Linked DNA regions of Homo sapiens. The protein of the gene in region 3 interacts with the protein of the main gene of each other region in a pairwise test. Each region holds a gene or a part of one and is shown on either strand. Other genes may lie near its edges.

The links.
Region 1: the proteins of VDAC2 (region 3) and ICAM5 interact in binary tests that used the Homo sapiens proteins (3 or more experiments, as listed by UniProt).
Region 2: the proteins of VDAC2 (region 3) and PEX1 interact in binary tests that used the Homo sapiens proteins (3 or more experiments, as listed by UniProt).
Region 4: the proteins of VDAC2 (region 3) and FMR1 interact in binary tests that used the Homo sapiens proteins (3 or more experiments, as listed by UniProt).
Region 5: the proteins of VDAC2 (region 3) and BRK1 interact in binary tests that used the Homo sapiens proteins (3 or more experiments, as listed by UniProt).
Region 6: the proteins of VDAC2 (region 3) and WFS1 interact in binary tests that used the Homo sapiens proteins (3 or more experiments, as listed by UniProt).
Region 7: the proteins of VDAC2 (region 3) and KIF1B interact in binary tests that used the Homo sapiens proteins (3 or more experiments, as listed by UniProt).

Annotation. Positions count from the first base shown.
Region 1 is NC_000019.10:10,295,115-10,297,278, reverse strand, and holds the end of ICAM5 (intercellular adhesion molecule 5 precursor), read right to left. Parts: intron 1,934-2,164; coding exon 1,667-1,933; intron 941-1,666; coding exon 663-940; 3' UTR 501-662; downstream 1-500. UniProt on the Homo sapiens protein: ICAM proteins are ligands for the leukocyte adhesion protein LFA-1 (integrin alpha-L/beta-2).
Region 2 is NC_000007.14:92,511,521-92,515,020, forward strand, and holds part of PEX1 (peroxisomal ATPase PEX1), read right to left. Parts: intron 2,448-3,500; coding exon 2,328-2,447; intron 184-2,327; coding exon 60-183; intron 1-59. UniProt on the Homo sapiens protein: Component of the PEX1-PEX6 AAA ATPase complex, a protein dislocase complex that mediates the ATP-dependent extraction of the PEX5 receptor from peroxisomal membranes, an essential step for PEX5 recycling.
Region 3 is NC_000010.11:75,209,460-75,213,595, reverse strand, and holds the start of VDAC2 (non-selective voltage-gated ion channel VDAC2), read right to left. Parts: upstream 2,801-4,136; 5' UTR 2,658-2,800; intron 2,463-2,657; 5' UTR 2,438-2,462; coding exon 2,407-2,437; intron 2,115-2,406; exon of another isoform or gene 2,013-2,114; coding exon of another isoform or gene 1,937-2,012; intron 1,367-1,936; coding exon 1,298-1,366; intron 1-1,297. UniProt on the Homo sapiens protein: Non-selective voltage-gated ion channel that mediates the transport of anions and cations through the mitochondrion outer membrane and plasma membrane.
Region 4 is NC_000023.11:147,928,919-147,932,418, reverse strand, and holds part of FMR1 (fragile X messenger ribonucleoprotein 1), read right to left. Parts: intron 2,472-3,500; coding exon 2,378-2,471; intron 2,292-2,377; coding exon 2,175-2,291; intron 1-2,174.
Region 5 is NC_000003.12:10,122,175-10,125,674, reverse strand, and holds part of BRK1 (protein BRICK1), read right to left. Parts: intron 50-3,500; coding exon 1-49. UniProt on the Homo sapiens protein: Involved in regulation of actin and microtubule organization. Part of a WAVE complex that activates the Arp2/3 complex. As component of the WAVE1 complex, required for BDNF-NTRK2 endocytic trafficking and signaling from early endosomes.
Region 6 is NC_000004.12:6,297,350-6,300,849, reverse strand, and holds part of WFS1 (wolframin), read right to left. Parts: intron 194-3,500; coding exon 1-193. UniProt on the Homo sapiens protein: Participates in the regulation of cellular Ca(2+) homeostasis, at least partly, by modulating the filling state of the endoplasmic reticulum Ca(2+) store.
Region 7 is NC_000001.11:10,290,570-10,294,069, reverse strand, and holds part of KIF1B (kinesin-like protein KIF1B), read right to left. Parts: intron 2,989-3,500; coding exon 2,909-2,988; intron 2,024-2,908; coding exon 1,948-2,023; intron 1-1,947. UniProt on the Homo sapiens protein: Has a plus-end-directed microtubule motor activity and functions as a motor for transport of vesicles and organelles along microtubules.

The DNA.
Region 1 (2,164 bases), on a different chromosome or scaffold from region 3:
CCAGGCTGGAGTTCAGTGGCACGATCTCGGCTCACTGCAACCTCTGCCTCCGGGGTTAAAGCGATTCTCCTGCCTCAGCCTCCCGAATAGCTGGGACTACAGGCGCGCACCACCATGCCCAGCTAATTTTTGTATTTTTAGTAGAGACAGGGTTTCACCATATTGGCCAGGATGGTCTCGATCTCATGACCTCGACCTCGTGATCTGGCCGCCTCGGCCTTCCAAAGTCCTGGGATTACACGCATGAGCCACCGCGACCGGCCTTGGCTAATTTTTGAAAAATATTTTTTGTAGGGTCTCCCTATGTTGCCCAGGCTGGTCTGAAACTCTTGGGTGCAAGGGATCCTCCCACCTGGGCCTCCCACAAGTCCTGGGATTACAGGCCTAAGCCACCACCCCAGGCCCTCTCAAAAATCGCTTTTTGAATGAATAACTCGGGAGGTCACGACTGGAACCCTGGGCTTGTTCCACCTTGCAGAAACAGAAGCGGAGACAGGGAGTTCCTTTATAAAAACTTTATTGAGGGGATGGGTAGAAAATGGGGGTGACGCCCTTGGAGTTGAATACATAAATAAATGAATAAGTAAATAAATAAAGCAATAAATAAGCCCCCGTGTGAGTCTGGGGGGCGTCCCCCGGCCCGCGGGGAGAGGGGAGCGGGCTCACGCCGATGTCAGCTGTATGGCGAAGACCTCGCCCTCCGCCGGCGACTCGGCCGCGCCCCCCGCCGCCTCGGGTCCGCCCTCCGCGCCTGCCGCCCCGCCAGCGCCGCCGCCCGCTCCGTTCAGACACACGGCCTCGCCTGAGCTCTCGGCCTCCTGCACGTTGTACTCGCCCTTCTTGCAGGCGGTGGACTGCACGTAGAAGGCCAGGCCGGCCCCCGCGGCCAGCAGCGCCGCGCCCCCCGCCGCGCCGCCCACGGCGACCCATAGCCACGGACCTGCGGGGTGGAGACCCTCGCGGAGGGTGGCCAAGCTCCGGGGGGCTTCTCCCACCGCCCCCCGCACTCCCACAGGCACGAAGTCAGTCCTCATGCCCCGGGGAGCTCACTGTCTGGCCTTGGGAGAAGGGAGACAACCCATGCAATAAGGCCACTCCCAGTGCCAGGGCGACCCGAGTCCCGATTTATATCGCACTTCAGCCCATGGGGATATAAACCCGTGACCACACTTAGCCCCCTGGCGACAAGTCAACTCTCCCCATCCCCCAAAAAATGAGGACCGGCAGGACCAGGTCAGGTTCCCCCGACCCCAGAGAGAACCCAGCCCCAGGAGCTTCAGGAAGTGAGAGAAGGCGATCTTGACCCCTCTCTCCCTCCAACATCCAATGACTTTGGTCCCTCCCCAATCTTCCCCACAGTGGATTGTGAATTGGGTCAAGTTTCCACCACGCAGAATCCAGCCCAAGTTTTAAAGTCCTTTCCTGCAGCAGTGACAGCCCCGGAGGGTCCCTCCCCTTGAATTCAGTCCCCCTGCCACCTCCATCTCCCACCCCTCAAAGTGCGATCAACAGCCCCACCCGCTAAGGCACCTTTGACTTCTACTCTGTCCCACTTCCGTCTAGTCTACCGGGACCGAGAGGGAGGCAGGCGGGGCCGGCCGCCCCAAGACCCAGGTCACGCCCCCTCTCAGATACCTCGCCCCGCCTCTCCCCAGCTGCCACTTACCGGCCACGCGCACCGTGATGCGCCGCGCGTGGCGCCCGTGCGCGTTGGTGGCTGCGCACTCGTACTCGCCGCCGTGGCTTCCCATGGCGCCTGCCACGCTCAGTGTGCTGTTGTTGCTCGACAGGCCGATGTTGAGGGCCCCCGGGGGCGCGCGCCAGCTGATCTGGGCTGGAGGCCAGGCCTCCGCGCGGCAGGTCAACGTGAAGTTTCCTCCTGGGCGCACGCCTCCAGGGGGCGAGGCAGCAAGTTCGGCCACCACTGGCCGGTCTGAAGGGCACAGAAGGTGAAGTGGGGCTTAGCGCCGGCCCAGCCACTGATCAAATGCCCTGCTCCGGCCCACAACGATCGATGGGAGACCACCGCGCCTCTGATGGGCAGAAGAGGATCCTGCCTCCTATCAGAGCCTCCTTCCCCGACAATCAGGCTGCTGTTGCGGCTAAAATTCCTCGCCCTTCTTCACCGAATGGAAGGAGGTGAAGCCCAGGTCAGTGTTCTAAT
Region 2 (3,500 bases), on a different chromosome or scaffold from region 3:
AATTAAAAATGTACAACTATTTAAATAGAAAAAAAAGTCAAAATAACAAATGTACTCACCATCTTTAGTTTCCAGCTTAATAAATTCTTCCTCTGATATTACCAAAGGAAGCATGGTGGTAGTAGACTGCTGTAGCCATGAATAAAATACAGTTTTTATGTCTTCTTCACTTATGTCTTTAGGCTGCCAGAAAAAGGAATAGTAATGAATTATCCTCATATCTGAACTTAACTTTAACACCCTTATTTTAACATCTGATCTTCCTAATAAAGTGTAAGCCTGACCAAACAAATCCAATGAAGGATGTTCATGTTCTATAGGCACAGGTCTGGGATTTGACATTACAGTTAGCACAATGAGTGCAGTGTAGCCTGAAGAAACATCTGTTAGGCGGAAAAGTTTTAAATGCTCCTTTTCTCTATGCCCAGTGATACATCTACCATAATGTGGCTCACTCAATAACCATTCCAACCCCATTCTCCCTTTCCTCCCTCTACGATAAAGACAGGAAAACAAATTCCTTTTTCTTTGAGACAGAATCTCGCTGTATCGCCCAGGCTGGAGTGCAGTGGCGCAGTCTCCACTCACTGCAACCTCTGCCTCCCGGGTTCAAGCGATTCGCTTGCCTCAGGCTCCCAAGTAGCTGGGATTATAGACATTGCAGCTAATTTTTGTATTTTTGGTAGACATGGGGTTTCACCATGTTGGCCAGGCTGGTCTCAAACTCCTGGCCTCAGGTGATCCGCCTGCCTTGGCCTTCCAAAGTGCTGGGATTACTGGCATGAGCCACCACGTCTGGCCTAATAATCTATTTAAAAAAATTTTTTTTGAGATATTGCCTAGGCTGGAGTGCAGTGGCACAATCATAGCTCACTGCAGTGTGGAACTCCTGGGCTCAAGAGATCCTCCCACTTCAGTCAGCCTCCTGAGTAGCTAGGACTACAGGCATGTGCCACCACATGTGTCTAATTTTTATTTTTACTTTTTTTGAAATAGAGTCTCGCTCTGTTACCCAGGCTGGAGTGCAGTGGTGAGATCTAGGCTCACTGCAACTTCCACCTCCTCAGTTCAAGTGGTTCTCCTGCCTCAGCCTCCTGAGTAGCTGAGATTACAGGATTAGCACCACGCCCCGATAATTTTGGTATTTTTAGTAGAGATGGGGTTTCACCATGTTGGCCAGGCTGGTCTCCAACTCCTGACCTCAAGTGATCCACCCATCTCAGCCTCCCGAAGTGTTGGGATAACAGGCGTGAGCTACCACGCCTGGCTTAATTTTTTTTTTAATTTTTTTGTAGAGATGGGGTCTTGCTATGTTGCCCAGGCTATTCTCAAACTCTTGGCCTCAAGCAATCCTCCCACCTCAGCTTCCCAAAGTGCTAGGATTACAGGTGTGAGCCACTGGACCCCACCTGCAAAGATCTTTAAGTTCAATATCTCATTTCCTGACTCTACCAGTATCCAAAGAATTAACTGAGTAAAAAGTAAAACAGTCTAGCACTCTTTTAGGCTACAATATTAATACTGAAACAACATGGGACAATTTTTTTTAATTACAACCACGTGGCAAAATGATCAATCTCTTAAAAGCCAAAAATATTCATATTTGCATTGGCAAATATAAGTATTTGTGTTATCATTTATTAAAGATTTCTCAGCTTCTCAAAAAGTTAAACATAATTCCTAGGTATATCCCAAAGGAGCTGAAAAGAGGAACTCAAACAGATACTTGTACACCAATGTTCACTGTAGCATTATTCACAGCAGCCAAAAATGTGGAAACAACCCAAGTGTCCATCAACAGATGAATGGATAAACAAATGTGGTATATGCAGTCAATGGAATAGTATTCAGCCATGAAAAGGAATAACATTCTGATACATACAACACAGATGAGCCTTGAAAACATTATGTTAAATGAAATAAGTCAGATACATAAGACAAATGCATACTTCTACTTATATATGAAATATCTAGAATAAGTAAATTCATAGAGACACAATATACATTAGAGATTACCAGGGACTGGGGAAAGGAGTGGACGGGGAATTATTGTTTAATGGGTACCAAGTTTCTCTTTGGGGTGATGGAAAAGTTCTGGATATAGATAGTGGTGATGGTTGTACAATATTATGAATGTAATTAATGCCTTTGAATTATACACTTAAAAATGGCGAACATGGCATATTTTATGTTATATATAGTTTAACACAATAAAAAAAGATTTGTATCAAAAAGGAATACAACATTCTTATTACTTAGCTAAAGCAACTAGAAATCTTACAAAACGTGTAAAAGAATTTTGATGTAACATATATATTTGAACTCACTAAATTCTCTCTAGGTTGTAACTTTAGAGATCTTGGAATTTTAGGGGTAACTTCCACTGGAGTTATCCTGACTACGGCATGCATTTCTATATTTAGTCTCTTCCTCAGGTCATCTGGAATCTGAAATTTAAAAATAAACAAAAATATAAATATATTCAAAGCTTGGTTAAGAAATATTTCATAGCATAAATATTGATATATTAGCTTCTATGAATTTAGGTGAAATAACAGAAGCTATCATAATAACTCATAGTTGTCTCAGTCCATGCAGGCTGCTATATCAAAATATCCTAAACTGGGTGGCTAACAAACGACAGAAACTTATTTCTCACAGTTCTCTTTTATAAGAGCACGAATCCCATTCATGAAGGCTTCACCTTCATGACCTAATCACTTCCCAAAGACCACACCTCCTAATACGATCACCTTGGGAGTTGGGATTTCGACATATGAATTTGAGGAGGACAAAACATTCAAATACCAACGGTGTGACCAGATGGATGTTCAGATATTGTTATACCATGAACATTTCAATCCTCTCCCTACATTTCTTTCCTTTTCTTTACATAATCTTCAGAATTAGAGCTTTAAATGTATGTATTTGACTGTATTCACCAAACCCATCTTTTAAACTATGGCACATTTACATTCAAATTAAATGTTATTTCTAATCTTTGAGCAGCCTTTATTTGTGAAAGTTAACAACCAATGAAGAAGCTGGAATGGCCAAAACTAATCACAGACAATCTGCCTGATTGTCTGATTAAATGATTAGATCCAGACAGAAACTTAATCTAAAAAGCAGAGTAAAATTTCTCCCACCCCCTAATGAAAATGTTCTAAACTTAGATTGTGGTGATGGCTGTACAACTAGTATAAATATACTAAAAATGACTGAATTGTACACTTTAAATTTTACCTCAGCCGGGCGCAGTGGCTCACGCCTGTAATCCCAGCACTTTGGGAGGCCGAGGTGGGCGGATCACAAGGTCAGGAGTTTGAGACCAGCGTGGCCAATATGGTGAAACCTCGTCTCTACTAAAACTACAAAAATTAGCCAGGCGTGGTGGTGGGAGCCTGTATCCTAGCTACTCGGGAGGCTGAGGCAAGAGAATCGCTTGAACCTGGGAGGCAGAGCTTGCATTGAGTGGAGATCGCCACCACACTCCGGCC
Region 3 (4,136 bases):
ATTTTTTGTATTTTTAGTAGAGATGGGGTTTCACCGTGTTAGCTAGGATGGTCTCGATCTCCTGACCTCGTGATCTGCCCGCCTCGGCCTCCCAAAGTGCTGGGATTACAGGTGTGAGCCACCACGCCCAGCCCCCAAACTATTCTTAAACTTAAATATCAGATTAAAAAATCATTCAACTGAAATTTCAGAATAGCTAATAACTTATCATGATATGGCCAGGTGCGGTGGCCCACGCCTGAAATCCTAGCACTTCGGGTAGTCGAGGCAGGCAGACCACTTGAGATCAGGAGTTCAAAACCAGCCTGGCCAACATGGTGAAACCTCGTCTCTACTAAAAATACAAAAAAAAAGCTGGGCATGGTGGCATGTGCCTGTAATCCCAGTTACCAGAGAGGCTGAGGCAGGAGAATTGCTGGAACCCAGGAGGCAGAGGCTGCAGGGAGCCGAGATCACGCCCCTGTACTCCAGCCTGGGCAACAGAGCGAGATTCCGTCTCAAAAAAAAACAAAAACAAAACCAACTTATCATAATACAGACATTTAGGACATTTATGCCAATGGGGTATTTCCAACAGTCTAAATAAAGGGGAGGAGGGTATGGAACAAAATTTTCAAGAAAACTCAAATTCACCTGAAAAAGCTCATAACTCTAGATAAAGTATTAGGAGTCACCACAAAAGCAAAACAGTAATATATCGTAACTCTAGTCAACCAGGGCCTAAGCTATAACTGAAAAAAAATTAAAGCACGAGCCGTTTTTCTTAAAGGCTCAAATCTTCTAAGTACAGTTTTTAAAAATTTTGGGAAATTGGGGGAGGGGGATGTAGACTGTAAAAGAACTATTTTCACATAAGTTTAATCTAAGTATCTTAAGTTTCTAATAGAAGAATTAATACAAGGCTGGGCACAGTGGCTCATGTCTGTAACGTAATCCAACCAGGCTTTGAGAGGCCACTGTGTTTACTGGGTAACACAGTGAGACCCCACCTCTACGAAAAATAAAAAAAATTAGCCAGGTGTGGCAGAGCGTGCCTGTAGTCCCAGCTACTTGGGACGTGGGAGGCTGAGGAAAGATGATCGCTTGAGCCCAGGAGGTCCAGGCTGCAGTGAGGTATAATCATGCCACTGCATCCAGCCTGGGCAACAGAGGGAGACCCTGTCTCAAAAAAATAAGTAACTCTAAATTTAAAGCAGCAAGATATTTACAATTTGCAATGATTGATCTGATTTCGCTAAGCAACCCAAACATACATTTTCACTCTTTATCTAAAACGTTTTAAAAATAAGGTTCTTACCAAATCCTTTGTTGAAAATATCTCTGGCAGCTTTGCCAAGGTCAGCATATGATGGAGGAATACACATTGCTGGTAGAAAAAAAACATTCCAGTGTTAATGTCTCTATTCTCCCACCTTCTATCCAAGAACAAGAGCATGACCCACTGCTGATATTAAAATTCAAGCAATCCCATTTGTTGGAATGTTTTTTATGCGGTCAGGAGCTACAATAGAACTATAACGACCCATAAAGGAGATACCACCAACGAATTATTTCTAAAACAGATAACCATGATTATACAAACTTGGGGAATTCGTTTCAAAACGGAAAAACAGTCTATTACCTACAGCCTCACTTCCTAGGACTGGACAAGTACAAAGAATCAAACAAGTATTTGTGTGTATGGATATTTATGTATCTGCCAAAATTCACTGAGATGAGCTGATTTAACTAAATTAGATAAAACCGAAACCTAAGACTAGGCCCTTTACCCTGATACGTCCTTTAATATCTTCGCTGAGGGGAAAACCAACACCCTGGAGTGGGAAGAGAATTTAATACTGGGAATTTAAATATTGAAACTTGGAAAAAATACTGCCATGTGTGTTTCACTCAAATGTCTACATCAACTAAATATCAAATAGCGCTTCAAACTTACTAATGTGACTCTCAAGTCCTCGGCCAATGCTGTGCTGCTTAAGGGCAGGCAATCTGAGCTCATTACACCAGCTCATTCATTCCACAAAGCACGTCCACGCCCTTAGGAGCACAAGTAATGACCTTGCGCTCTCACAAGAGGGACTGCTACTTCCTCTAGAAAAGTGATTGATCCGATCCTCCAAAGGCAGAATCCCCAATTAACAACTTTTTACTTCTATACGTCAAAGACATGTACAAAGGCTGAAAAGTCCATGCGGCCACAGACCAACTCCCCGGGCCTTGTTCCCCATTTGAAATCCAGCAGCCCAGCCCCTCCTCCGCAGAGGAGGTGGTCAGACGGTGGGGCGACCACCAAAAGCAGCCGAATTTCCAAGTTCTTGGAAAGATAGGGGGAAACAAACTGGGTTTCTGGTCGACAGGCTTCGACTCTCCGCCGCCCCATCCCGCAGAGATCCCAGCTTTACTTACGACGCGCGCAAGTCTGTCCGTGGGTCGCCATGGCGAGGCCGCGGGAAGAGGGGAATCTGCGGGAGGGACAAGAAGTGCGGTAAGCTGGGGTCAAAGGGCCAAAGGGAGATCCCGGGCAGAGAGGGGCGAGGGGCCGCGGGGCAGCGCGGCCATCTTAGGAAGCCAGGGCCGACTCCGAGTCCGGCGCGGGCCTCCGGCTTGGCCGCCGCGGCCTAGGCCCCTGGGTCGGCGTGAGGCGGGCGCGGCGGTACCTGGTGGTGTCCTGAGGGGGGCCGCCGCCACCGCTCCGCTAGCTGCTGAAGCCGCTTGGCACGCTCGCGGTCGGGCTGCAGCTCCAGCAGCTGGAGGGCGAAGTGAAGGAGACACCGTTCCGCCCGCCGCAACCCTGTCCTCTCCCAGACAGGACCCCGCCGCTGCCCCCGGGGCTGTCCGCCGCGCCTGTCCCTGCAGCGCAGCCCGCTGCCAACTCCAACCTGCTCCAGAGCGGCCACGTGGACCGACAGCGCCCCGGTCCTGCAGGTGGGCTGCCTCCGTCCGTCGGTGGGGATCCGGAAGGCAGAAGCTGCTGGGCCTTGGATCAGGCAGCTATCCGGGCAGCCTCAGAGGCGAGGGGGCGGGGAACGGCGGAGGCAGCGCGCTGGGGACCGCCTGGGAGGGGGATGGGGCGGAGGCCCCGCGCGAACGCGTCACGGACGGGGCGGGGCGTCGGCGCGTGGCCGGGGCGATAGGGCGCGGCTGCGCACCAGGGTCACGTAGATCTCTCCTACTCCCCTTACGCGCTGGTGCGGGTTCCCCCCCGAAACAAAGCCCTGCATAGGGTGCCTGCGGGGAGTCAGCTGAGCGTTACCCACGTCCATCCTAAGCTAGCGCAGCCTGCGCTTCTGAGGGACCGCTTCTCTTTCCCAGCCCAGGGAGAACGAGTGGGACACAGGGGCGCCACCTCCAGCCCCTCGCGCTCTTCTGCCCTCTTTTCCCACCTTGGTGTGACTGCCTTGCTGTGCTGGGTTGTGTGCCTGAGAGGCTTTTTGGGACTGCCTCTCCCTGAACAAATGTGAGCGGGTCCTAGCGTGCCCCACCCATTTCCACGCCGCCTTACGCTTTCTCTTCCGCGGCTCCTCCCCACTCAGGCATGGCACTGCTTCACACACGCACGGAGCCGGAGCTTGGCGAGGCAAGCCTGCTCCGGGCCCAACCTCCTCTGGATTATGGGCCTGGAGAAAATGTGGAATCATGCTGAGCAGGCGTTAGAATGCCGCACCCGAGTTCCCCGGGTGTGCAGGAAGGGTGACAGAGCTATTAGATAAAATGTATATGGGAGACCGTTAGTTTAGACTGACCTCCTGCATTAGGCCCATCAGACCAAACCAAAATGGGGTTACTCATGCTGAAGTTTCACACTACCACGCCAAAGCTAGGATCTTTATCTGACCTTCCAAGAAATCAGGAGAGAAACAGATGCTAGCCAGATCCCCAAACAGGCTGGGCGCGGTGGCTCACACCTGTAATACCAGCACTTTTGGATGCCGAGGTGGGCGGATCGCCTGAGCTCAGGAGTTCCGGACCAGCCTAGGCATAGTAATACCCTGCCTCTACCAAAAAAAAAAAAAAAAAAAAAAAAAATAGCCGGGCGTGGTGGCTGGCGCCTGTAGTCCCAGCTAATTGGGAGGCTGAGGAGGGAGGATCGCTTGAGCCTGGGAGGTTGAGGCTGTAGTAAGCTTAGATGGTGCCAC
Region 4 (3,500 bases), on a different chromosome or scaffold from region 3:
AGAAATGGACGTCTGATGAATACACTTTATCAACTATTACGACAACTGTATTTAGGCCAGCCATGTAAATTATCTTGACCCTGTATATGAGGGGTCCATAAATTATTAATAGTTTTAGGTTAAAACTAACAGGTTTTAGAAAATACCTCTCACAGCCTAAGTACTTTTTAGGTTACTAAAGGTCTATGACATTTTATATGTTTTTGTTAATAGGAAAGAACTTGTTGACATTTTCCAAGGTAACTGCTGAAAACTTATCACAAGGCTGCCTTAGTTAACCAATGACATCAGCAATATAATAACTAAGAAGCAGGTCAAATGTTCCCCAGTAAAAACCAGCTCACTCGGTCTGACAAACTCAATGTTACTTATTTAGGTAAAAAAATGTTTAAATATCATCTTTATAGAAAATTTTATTCGCTTCATTTTTATTAAAAGGTATCAGTATATATTTTCTGGAAACAGTGCCATTTTTTATAACATCATTAGGTACTGTGGTCTAAACATTCCTCTGTTGAAATGACATTAAAATGACACCTCCCTCAAAACCTAAGGAATCAAAAATTGTTGGTACAGTAGTTAAACTGAATAATCAAAAAATGTCAAAAATTAAAAACTTAGTAAGCATCTGAAAGCTAACATGAGACCAGAGTCCGTAAGACCTTGTGATCTGGATCCACAATTATGATGAGCACTTGTAAATATCCAGTGATGACGAAACTAAGTTACACTGACATCCCAAACTTGTGGATAACCACTGTCTTTAAATACCATTATCAAAATTTAGTGTTCAGTTCTAGCATGCCATTAATGAAAACCAAACGTATTAGTGGCTCATGTTGAAAAATGGGAATTTCTTATAGGAACATGTAAATCTCTTTAATATTAGTAGTGAAGAAAGATAGGCATGCATACTAGTTTCTCATTGTTCAACAGACCTGATAATTTGAATGAATGAATACAACTAGCATAAATAATTTAAAAGTGCAATACCCATTTTTTTTAGACTAGAGTAATAAAATCTATAAAATAATTCTAGGACTTTTCAAGAAGTCATGTTTTTTGAGTCCTGGTTCATTAATCTGGTTCGTTCTTTTTCATTGATAATTCACTGATAAATGGTTAGCCAAAAGTATGATAGATCATTTAAGAATAATTCGATGTTTAAGAGGCATATGAGTATATTTTCATAATACTCACAATCAAAGTAAGGAGGCAGCTCTGGGCTAAAAGTTATGAGAGAATCACTGAAGGAACCACAAAATCATGAACACAGGGACATCAAGAAAGAATGAGAGCAAAGACCAATTAAACAGACCTCCATGGCCTTAAGAAAAAACAAAGTGGCAAAAGGAGATTAAACTTTTCCCCTTCTGCTAAGAGTTCAGCATCATACATCAAGTTGACAGGTGGCAAATTTCACAGGGTTTTTATAAGAACACAGTCTTGACTACCTTTTCTCCTAAAATGCAGTTTGGAACTCCTTTTTTTCTTTACTATTTCAAATGTGTGGTGTTTTCCTTCTAATGAATAATGATGACGAACTCTGGAATTTGACAGGAATATAGTAGAGCTGGCACATTCATCTAAGATCCACTTAGTTTCTATAGTAATGGATGGACGTACTTGATAGTTATCAATGAAAACAAATATATGGTGATGAAAATTATTGGAGGATTAATAAAAGTAGATAAAATGCACCTTAAGAGACAAAATAGTAAGTTAGGGAAATAGCCTCTGGCGGGAATCTGAAGACAGGAGTTTTAAAGAATGACAACCAATTAGAATGAAGAAGTTCTATACCCTTTTAAACAAAGATAAACATACATAATGAGAGGAATATGATTAGATATTTAAATATTCTCTAGTATTTTTAATGACAACATGTTATATGGAAGAAGCATTGCCGCATTTTATTAGCAACTTTGATAAACTTCTAGTAAAAGTGAAAGTACCAGAAGTCCCTTAATATACATAAGCTGCTGTTTAATTTTGAAACCTCAGGCATGGAAACTTTAGTATGATTATGCTTTGTACAATTTTCCAACTATAGAACCTAAGGAATTGTTAAGAAGCAGTAAATAAATGACAAGCTCCCCATATTCAAGTTGTGGAATGATACAGTTAATCGTTCCTAGGTACCCTTACAAGCAGTGCTAGGGAAAGTGACATACCTCCAGCTGCTTACTAGCTTCTTCATTTCTCATTATCAGAGACAACTTAGTGCGCAGACTCCGAAAGTGCATGTCAATCAGCATATGTGCTCGCTTTGAGGTGACTTCATTGATGGACTAAATGATTTAAATTAACAACATTATTATCAAGGCAATTGCCCCAGATGAATTAAACTAAAAATAAACAACTCAAAAATGCTCACCAAAATGACAAGCTGATAATTTTCTGGATCATAAGTTACAGAAAAGGCACCAACTGCCTTTTTAAAATCCTTATGTGCCGCCTCTTTGGCACACCTAGAAATTTAAAAAAAAAAATTAAGATGAATAATTACCAACTACTGACATAAATAAATGCAGGCAGATTTACACATACAAGAATCATGGATTCATATTAAATTTGATTTATGCAAAATATGCTATATCCATTTAGAAGCTTAGCTCCTTTTCTGTACATTTCTGAAATACAGCTTAGATTACCAAAAGAGACATATTCAGGGGAACCACTCTACACTACAGGTTTCCTGATTTCAGTTACATACAAGTCAGTAGTTTTCTTAAGTCAACTATTGAAAACTTTTGGAGATAGCTACCTACAGGGTATCTGATTTCTTTCTTCTTCTCTTGTTGCAGGCCTTTTTTTTTCCTTTTTTTTTAATTTTTAGTTTTGTGGGTACATAGTAGGTATATATATTTATGGGGCATATGAGATGTTTTGATACAGGCATGCAATATGAAATAAGCACATCACGGAGAATGGGGTAAGAAACTGCTAAACGATTTGAGGGAGAGAAGGAAACGTACATGAACCAGAAGGCACAAAAATTTACACACATACACAATCTCTAGAAAAGGGAGGATTTCTATGTATTCTGAACTGCAATTTAATGTTCAACAACATGTCCAAATCAAACGTACTGTATTCACTTAATAAAATCTGTAAAAAATAAAAATGCGTCTCTTCTATAGTCTTTAAGCATTATTCCAGATCAAGGATTGTAAGATGAGATGACTTTTTAAAGCTTCTTTGGCTCTACTTATTACACATTTATCTGAAAACATTTTAGGTAAAAGAGAAAAAAACGGAGAAATCGTTTATAGTTTGTGACTTATGACAGAATTATCACATTTGTTTGATCAGTTTTTAAATCTTAGAATGAACAAAGTTAGTTTAGAAAACAAATGTACATTATGTACATCAGACACGTGTATAGCCAAGTAAGTTTAAACAAGCGCAAGGCTGCCTTGATTCTATAAGTAGGAAAAGTTAAATAAGTTTTTTCTCCATTGCTCTTGCAAACCAAACCATTTTTGCCAAAGTCCACC
Region 5 (3,500 bases), on a different chromosome or scaffold from region 3:
GCTGTCAATTTCTCGTTTAGTGTTGCAAGTCTTGAACGACAAGACATATCTGAGAAAAAGAGACTGGTGTTCAGGATTAATGTCACTCCAAACACAGACACAGACACACACAACACCTACAATGAAAAAGAGGAATAATACACAGAATACAAATGGAAATGGATACAGTGCTAAGATCCACTCATAGCACAGTTGCTTAGAGTGGATCTGCTGAACTTCCTATCAAGTGTTGCAAGTAGAGAATAACGGCCCCACAAAAACGTCCTTTCCTGCAGGGCACGGTGGCTCATGCCTGTAATCCTAGCACTTTGGGAGGACTAGGCGGGTGGATCACCTGAGGTCAAGAGTTCGGGACCAGCCTGGCCAACATCATGAAACCCTGTCTCTTACTAAAAATACAAAAATTAGCCAGGCATGATGGCACATGCCTGTAATCCCAGCTACTTAAGAGGCTGAGGCAGGAAAATCACTTGAACCGGGGGGGGCAAAGGTTGCAGTGAGCCAAGATCTCGCCACTTCACTCCAGCCTGGGTCAAACAGCAAAACTCTGTCTCAAAAAAAAGTCCTTTCTCTAATCCCTGGATCCTGTGAATATGGATTATACATGAGGAAACAGGGCTTTGCAGGTATGATTAAGGTTAAGAACCTTGAGATCCTAGAGTTTGTCTTGGATTGTCCATTTGGGCCCAATCTAATCATAGTCCACAAATGTAGGTGAGAAAGGCATAGGAAGGGGGTCAGAGATGAAATGGAAGAAGAAAAAGAGATTCCAAGTGTGAAGGGGATGCAATCTGCCATTGTTGGCTTTGAAAGTGGAAGAAGGGAGCCATGAACCAAGGGATGTAAGTGACCTTTAGAAGCTGGGAACAACTCTCAGCTCACAGCCAGCAACAAAACAGAGATCTCAGTCCTACAACCACGAGAAACTGAATTCTGCCAACAACCCAATATTCGAGGAACTAGACCCTCTCCTAGAGCCTCCAGAAAGGAAGGCAGTCCTGCTGAAACCCTGATTGGAGCCCAGGCCAGGAGCAGTGACTCATGCCTGTAATCCTAATACTTCAGAAGGCCAAGGTGTGAAGACTGCTGGCCAAGGTGTGAAGATTGCTAGCCCAGTGACCAGTGTTTGATTTATGACCTACACATGGTAAATAATAAATGTATGTGGTTTAAGCCACAAAATGTGTGGTAATTTGTTTTTTTGGTTTTTTTTTTTGAGATGGAGTCTCACTCTGTTTCCAGGCTGGAGTGCAGTGACGCAATCTTGGCTCACTGCCACCTCTGCCTCCCGGGTTCAAGCGATTCTCCTGCCTCAGCCTCCTAGGTAGCTGGGACTACAGGTGTGCGCCACCATGCCCAGCTAATTTTTTTTTTTTGTATTTTTAGTAGAGACGGGGTTTCACCATGTTGGCCAGGATTGTCTCAATCTCTTGTCCTCGTGATCCGCCCGCCTTGGCCTCCCAAAGTGCTGAGATTACAAGTGTGAGCCACTGTGCCCAGCCTGTGTGGTAATATGTTATGCCAGGAATAGCAAATGAATACACCAAGGCTGTACAGCCATTTACTAATGGCCTAACTAAGACTTTCAAGAGAGGGGACATGGCAAGAATAAGAAAATAATCTCAACAGGAAAGAAACGAGGCTGGGCGTGATGGCTCACGCCTGTAATCCCAGCACTTTGGGAAGCCAAGGTGGGCAGATCAACTGAGGTCAGAAGTTTGAGACCAGCCTGGCTAACATGGTGAAACCCCATCTCTACTAAAAATACAAAATTAGCTGGGTGTGGTGGCGGGTGCCTCTAGTCCCAGCTACTCGGGAGGCTGAGGCAGGAGAATCACTTGAACCTGGGAGGCGGAGGTTGCAGTGAGCTGGGATTGCACCACTGCACTGCAGCCTGGGTGACAGAGTGAGACTCCATCTCAAAAAAAAAAAAAAAAAAAAAGGCCAGGCACGGTGGCTCAGGCCTGTAATCCCAGCACTTTGTGAGGCCAAGGCAGTGGATCACGAGGTCAGGAGATGGAGACCATCCTGGCTAACACAATGAAACCCCGTCTCTATTAAAAATACAAAAAATTAGCCGGGTGTGGTGGCGGGCGCCTGTAATTCCAGCTATTCGGGAGGCTGAGGCAGAGAACTGCTTGAACCCGGGAGATGGAGGTAGCAGTGAGCCGAGATTGCACCACTGCACTCCAGCCTGGGAAACAGAGTGAGACTCCGTCTCAAAAAAAAAAAAAAAGGAAAGAAAGTAGAGGCCAAGAAAGCAGCAGAAATTATGGGGAGGGAAGGTGTGAGAGTTCTGAGCTCATTAAAGCCATGTCACTACTGTTGCTCCTAGAGGCAAAGGCCTTTCAGAACTAGAGAAAAGTTGGAGAGCATCAAATACCCGATAAAGCCCACATTCCATCTGTGAAAACAGCCAAAATTATTCTTCTTCCTCTAGCTTTTCCAATCTTCTTTTACCATCTCATTCAAAATGAAACCAGATTTAATTTAAAACAACTTTTTCTCTGCAAACTTCTGTAACAGGAACTATTCTTTTTCCAACTATTCTCAACATATGAGAGAAAAGGTATCTTAGCATGGTCATTATCTTCTACTCTCTCCTCCAACATTGTTGTTCAGTCATCTCTCAATAAACTTCAGTTTTCAAGTCTGAAATATTCGCTGAGACTCTCCCACGCAATGATTTAACACTTAGCTAACAAGTTTCCTTTTCATCTATTCCCTGGCTGTTTTGCAAAAGCGCTTCAGCATCCATTTTGACAAATCTTCCTACACCCTGATCTTGCCTCAACTTTCATCTTATTATGTCCAAATCTTACTCATCTTGCCTGCCTATCTCCTTCAAGGCTAAGTTCAAATTCTATCTCTGAGAGGTCTTGCCAGATGGACATAATAATTCTTCCTCTTCTGTATTTATCTAAACATTTACGGATGAATTTTTTTTTTTAAAAGAGACATGGTCTTGCTCTGTCACCCAGGCTAGAGTTCAGTGTTGCAATCATAGCTTACTGCACCCTCCAACTCCTAGGTTCAAGTGATCCTTCCACCTCAGCCTCCCGAGTAGCTGCAATTACTACTCAGTAGGTGGATGCCACTGTGCCTGGCTAATTTTTTTGTTTTTTGTTTTGGTAGATATGGGGGTCTCACTTTGTTGCCCAGGCTGATCTCAAACTCCTGAACTCAAGCAATCCACCTGCCTTGGCCTCTCAAAGTCCTAGGATTACAGGCGTGAGGCACCGTGCCAGCCTCTGAATTTCTAATTTGTAAGTTATTCATGTACTTGGTCTTTGGTTATGACTTCCCTCTTTGGATAAAGATTTTACAAATAAGAATGTGCATCACTACTATTTAAGATGGTGAAAAAGCAACAAAACCAAATGCCCATGATTGGAATGGTTTGATATAGCGTATTAATGAGACTATTAAAATAGCCATTGAAAGTTACAAGTGGCCAGGCGCGGTGGCTCATGCCTGTAATTCCAGCACTTTGGGAGGCC
Region 6 (3,500 bases), on a different chromosome or scaffold from region 3:
GGTAGAAGATGACCAGCGGGATGAAGAAGGCGAAGAAGTCGATGGTGAGGTTGCTGACGATGAAGAAGAAGATGAGCGCGTTGATGTGGTGCGTGGGGATGATGGTGGACAGCCAGTGCATGCCTGCCCTGGAGGCCATGTCAATCAGGTACTCCTTGATCTCCATGATGGCGTGCAGGGGGTACTTGACCACCTGGGGGAAAGATGGTACGTGGGAACGAGGCTGGGACAGGACCCCCACTGCTCCCATCTCACGCCTCCCTCTGACCACCCTGCCTCTGGGCAAAAGGAACCCGCACCCTTGCGTTTTCCCATCACCAGCCCCATCCTAGTGGTCCTCCCTCCCCCCTTCTCCAGGTGGCCCTCCCCATGCTCGCGGTCCCTGTGAGCCCTCCCTCTTCTGGGCCTGGAGCCCCCCTCTGCCCCGTGCCTGGCTCCCCACCTTCTACCAGCGTGACTAGATGCATGTGTGCTTCTCTCCCTGCAAGACCTCCAGCACTGGAGGGACCCACGGGCTCCCCACTTCCCTCCCCTCAGGGTCACCCACATGAAGAGATGACGGAGCCCTGAGATGCCTGTCTGGGAGCTGGTTTTGTGACCCAGCTCTGCACTACAGCAAGGATGTCACCTCCCTGAGCCTCCATGAAGGGAAATGGCGATCCTTACGAGGAGGAGAAGCCGCAGGCAGTCCCCGGAGGGGTGGCAGAGCAAGCATTAGGGAAAGGGAGTTCAGTGCAGACACAGGCAGAGGGCCCAGCACCACTCTCCCAGCAAAAATACCGTTCAGCTGCACGGGGCTGCCGGGTGAGCTGCCCTCCCTATGGCCGGAGACCCTGAGAAGCAGCTGCCAGGCCACCTTCTGCCCGTACACACACGTGCACACACACACACGCAACCCACCCCTACACACACGCATTCACACAAACCCACCCCATACACACACACACAACCCACCCCTACACACACACATGCAGCCCACCCCTACACACACGCATTCACACAACCCACCCCTATACACATTCACACACACGCAACCTACCCGCATTCAAACAACCCACCCCTACACACACATTCACACACACGCAACCCACCCCTACACACACACACGCAACCTACCCGCATTCACACAACCCACCCCTACACACACATTCACACACACGCAACCTACCCGCAAACAACCCACCCCTACACACACATTCACACACACGCAACCCACCCCTACACACACACGCAACCTACCTGCATTCAAACCCACCCCTACACACACATTCACACACACGCAACCCACCCCTACACACACATTCACACAACCCACCCCTATACACATTCACACACACGCAACCCACCCCTACACACACGTGCACACCCACCCCCACACGTGCACCCTCACACATGCACACCCACCCCTACACGTGTGCACCTACACATACACACCAGCGCACCCCTACCTCCCCATAGTCAAGGCCAAAGGCTGCCTTCCCCCGACCTGTGGGTCCTGCTCCCCTGCTCTGCATGCAGCGCTAAGGTCAGAAAGAGCTCTTGGCCTTCACCACAGCCAAGAGGAGCAGAGGGCTGAGGGAGGCATGCTGGGAGCAGCCTCAGGATGGGGTGAAGCAGCGCTGCCACCCAGGGCCAGCCCTCATGCCTTCCTGGTCTGTGCAGAACTCAGAGGCCCTGAGCCCTGCCAGAACACAGGGCAGCCAGGCAGAGGGACTGGAGGGGATGGGGGACAAAGTGGCCATGGTGCCAGTGCTCACACAGCATGGCGTGGCATACAAAGCAGGTTCTGTGCATCTTCAGAAGTGCCAGGGGCCTGGACCAACACCAGGAAGTGGACGCCTAGGGGGCGGCCCCACATGGGGGTAGGGAAGCCTGGCTGCATGTCCAGGGCCCACTGAGGGGCTACATGACACATCCAGGCTGGAGCCCCCCATCAGCTCCGGGCCTCGGGGAAGCACCAGACCCCACAAATCCCCTGGGGCAGGTTCTCTCCACCAGGCCCACCAGAAGGCCAAGGAGGGATCCCAGGTGAATGGCAACTAGGTGACAACACCAGAATGTGGCCCTCACCTGCCAACAGCCTGGCTATCAGCTCTGGAGGACCAGGACACCTGGAAACAACCAGAAGACTGAGTCTTCCACAGATGAGAGGAGAGGGGCAGGCTCATGGAGGAAACGGAAGTGTTATGAGTGTGTGCATGCATGTCTACACAGACTGAGCCTTCCACAGATGAGAAGGACAGGCTCATGGAAGAAACGGAAGTGTTTAGGAGTGTGTGCATGCACGTCTACACGTGGGGGAACAGCTCTGCTGCTTCATGTATATTTGTGACAGTCCACTTAATCTCTGTTTTATAACAAGCAAATAAACGATTAAAGCAGCTAACAGCTCCCCTAGCTCTCTCTGGGGTCAACAACCTTCTACATGAGCAGAGAGGCGCTCACACTGCCAGGAGATGGCCAGGGAAGACCAGGCACTACAGGGTTTGAGGGCATTTCCAACGCTTGCCAGAGAGCCAGAGGGCATTTATGAAAACCAACCTACTCCAGGGTTTGTTTGGGGCAAGCCCCTGTAGTATGACGCCAGGCCAGCTGGCTAAAATCAACAGCTACACGAGTCAACATGTGCGTCAGCCGGCAGGCTGCTCAGTTAATCCCCGTATGGGGGCCTTGCGAACAGCAGGACAACTAAAGGTGGCCTGGCCCGCCACTGCTCACCACCAGTTTCACGCACGACCGCCACGGTAGCAAGGGGGTGGCCTTGGTAAAAATAAATCTGAAATCCTGTCTTACTCAAAGCCATGCACATTCTTTTGCCTAGAACACACACAACCACCTGGTTGAGAGGGCCTTTAAAAGACAAGGAATATTCTAGAACATTACGTTGGATGGCGTCTAGCCTCTGCTTGGACAGTGTGGAGGGGCTGGTCCCCCACCTGAACTCGATGACCAGGGAACGATCCCCTTTTTAAAGCCCCAATTTCTGCTCCCTGCAATGTACACCCAAGACCTTCCTCTGACATGGGATTAAAAAGTTCAGTCTCCTTTTCTGCAAAGAAGGTCCAAACAAATTCAACTCCTGAGATGGAAAAAGAACGAAACTTAAAAACTATGAGGAGTCTGCCTCTATGAATAGAACACTGCAGAGCTCTCTGTCTGGGCCTGTGGTGATCGGCCCTTCTGCTGCCACGAGAAACCAGGAAGCAGCGTCACCACACCGATGGCCCAGCGGACCCGTGAAGAAGGCAGGCTGGGGAAGGGAGCCGAGACGAGATTCTGCTCAAACCTGTGGGCAAAAATGTTCCCGTGTCGGATCTTCCAATTATGTAATGTTAAAAATGTTACGATTTTAAGATATTAAGTTTGTTTTCAGAGGATTCTATCTACGATGACAGCTTGCACCTCCAGGCTCCAGAAGAGAACTGTGTGGAGTCTGGAACATTCTTTGTGGGAGTAAGGGTGGCTCACAAAGAGGTGTCTGTCATTTTCACTTTGAGTGA
Region 7 (3,500 bases), on a different chromosome or scaffold from region 3:
GGTTAAAGAGAAATCTGAAAAACCTCCACATCTTCTCAACTAGCATCCCCCTTTGTAGTTGAAGAACTTGACTGGTTTGAGAAAGTCAAAGCCCTTTGTGAGTAGCATTCTTTAAAGCACATCATAATTTGAAAAATGGAATCTCAGAAACAGGTCCTAAGACTGAGTTTGGATGTGGTCACTGGTATATCCCTTCCTTTCATGAAGAAGTCTAGAAAGCTAAAGCAAGATGGGTAAAATTAAAGTAAGAAAAAGCTTTGGAAGCAGAGATCTCACTTTGGAATTCCATGCAGTGTACATCTCAACATTTGTTCAAGTTATTTATGATTTATGTTAAATGCATAATATTTTCACTAGTTGTTATAATAAAAATTTTCCAGCCAGGCACAGTGGCTCATGCCTGTAATCCCAGCACTTCGAGAGGCTGAAGTGGGTGGATCACAAAGTCAAGAGATCAAGACCACCCTTGGCCAACATGGTGAAACCGTCTCTACTAAAAATACAAAACTTAGCTGGGCGTGGTGGCATGTGCCTGCAGTCCAGCTACTTGGGAGGCTGAGGCAGGAGAATCACTTGAACCCGGGAGGCGGAGGTTGCAGTGAGCCAAGATCACACCACTGCAGTCCAGCCTGGCGACAGAGTGAGACTCTGTCTCAAAAAAAAAAAAAAAAAAAAATTTCCTCACAGTCTTTAATACTGTAAGATGTTATAAAATACCTTTATTAGACATATGCATAGGCACAATTAAATTCCACCAAAACTGTAACTGCTAAAATCTATATAATCCTAAGTAACATATCTGAATGAATACATGTCTTACTGAAGGAAAAACTATTAAAACTGTGAAAACCACTAACCTTTCATAATATAAACATATAAAATACTTAACTGTTCTATTCTACAATATGCATCTAAAATGTCTTTACATCAGTCTTTTCTGTTGAAAATAACACATTGGAATTTGGGAAGAAAAAAAAAAAAAAGTTATGTGGCCAGGATAGAAAAACCTGACCAGAAGAATTGTAGCGAAAACCACAGGAATATTTCATATCACATAAAAGTACCAATTCAAAACTCACCACCCCTTGTATCCTAACTTAGAGAGATCATCAACAGAACCTATGAATAAAGATGTTTAAGTCTCCAATAGCCAATGTGAGGTCACTTGAAATAAAGGACAATTTACTAGTGGCATAAAATACATGCTTTGTACATCGATATATGTTCTCCTATTTTCTGATACATAAGCACACAAAATAACCATTTGATAGTCATTTTCTAGTATCCAACAAGACGTTGCAACTTAGTTTAAGAAAAAAACAAAAAAACCCTTACTACTCTAATTAGCTAAAAGCTACGTAACTACTTCATAACTATGATTATGTAAAAAGGAAGGTAACTATTGGAGACACTTTTTAAAAAATGAAGAAGGAAGCAGAGGAGTCTAGAAGGATAGGGACAGGAATTGCTTTACTTAGTACAATGGCTGTCTATAATACAAATTGCAGAAGCAAATGGAAGCAGTATTATTCTCCACAAACCTGTACAGCTGAAATTGGTTCCAAAAAGTTATAAAGCAGGGTAGACGACTTCTGTGGGAAAATCTACATGAAAGAGTAGCCAAAACTGAAAGTACGCTAGGTTAGGCTGGGAATTTAAGAGAAAGCAACAAATAAAGATGACTAAACAAACTGAATCATGGCCAAAGGTTACATATTGCCTTAGGTTTTTTCTTTTGTAAACAGTAAACAAGATAGGCATTTTAGAAATAGGCTGCCTTTGTACTATAAGACCATGCTCTAAGATGAAATCAGAAATATCTGAAATTAAGGCAAGTATCAAGATAATAAGGGGGAGAGTAGGTCCTGAAAGACATGAAGTGCCCCAGTAACAAAGACAAACAAAAAGTGTCTCTGTCTGATTAGGTTTCACAGCATTGTTTCCTACCTTTTTAGGTGAGAAAACCCCTAGGGTTCCTCCATCTTCCCGAATGGCAACTCCCATCTCAGCCAACAAAGCCTCTCTAGGAAAAAAACAGGTATATCAGAACACTAATACCAAAATGTCAATTAAATCAGTCTAATATGAATTGGAAAATAAAGCCTGCAAAGCAAAAACAACTGGCCATGTTTATAGCCAATAATGCAAACATAAAATAATGTGCTTATCTCATCATTAATGAGAAGTTATTTCTAAAAGCAACATCACATTCAAAATCAATGAAATCTTGCTTTGTTAAAGTTATATTCACTGAGATAAGAACTTTGTCTCAACTGACTTTGGGATAGTCAATAATTCATAAATGATATGCATATTAATATAAAAAAGAAAAGAAGAGGCTATTCCTTTTTTTTTTTTTTGAGACAGAGTCTTGCTGTCACCCAGGCTGCAGTGCAGTGGCACCATCTCGGCTCACTGCAAACTCTGCCTCCCAGGTTCACGCCATTCTCCTGCCTCAGCCTCCCGAGTAGCTGGGACTACAGGTGCCCACCACCATGCCCGGCTAATTTGTTTTGTATTTTTAGTAGAGATGGGGTTTCACCATGCTAGCCAGGATGGTCTCGATCTCCCGACCTCGTGATCTGCCCACCTCAGCCTCCCAAAGTGCTGGCATTACAGGCGTGAGCCACCGCGCCTGGCCAATATGTTCCATTTTTATGAATCCCTAGCAACATGTAATATGGTAACTAATAAACCTGTGACTCCCTAGATAATATTTAAATATGTAGATGTCATTTCAAAGCATAAATTCAACTGGCCATAAATCCCTGTCCATTTTTTTGGTTTCGTTTTGTGTTTTAGAAGGGCAGACTCTTTGATTTTAATTTATATTTTATCTTTTCTTACGATAAAGTAATCCACATCCCCTAGAAAACTTAGAAACATTTCCAGATTTTAACCTCCTGACCTCTCCATTCTGATGGCCTCTGTTTTACGAAGCTTCTCTTCCCAAGTTTCATTCAACTCAGCAATGATCTTCTCTGATTCCTAAGGAAGGAAGCGCACAGTTAAAGAGGCAAAGAGTCTTATAATTTAACATACCATGCTAGAAAAGCAAGAAGCAAATCATGCCCTTTGAGGATACAGGCCAGAATTAAATGTAAAGAGATTTTTCTTTTATTAATACATAAGATAAGAATCATAAAGATTAGACCTAAAACTAAATCAACCCCAAACAAATAAATCCTCCAAGTCTTTTTTTTTTTTGAGACGGAGTCTTCCTTTGTCACCAGGCTGCAGTGGCGCGATCTCAGATCACTGCAACCTCACCTCTGGGGATCAAGTGATTCTCCTGCCTCAGCCTCCCGAGCAGCTGGGACTACAGGCACGTGCCACCACGCCCAGTTAATTTTTGTATTTTTAGTAGAGACGGGGTTTCACCATGTTGGCCAGGATGGTCTCAAGCTCTTGACCTCGTGATCCACGTGGGCATGGTGGCAGGCGCCTGTAATCCCAGCTACTCAGGAGGCTGAGGAAGGAGAATGGCATGAACCCGGGAG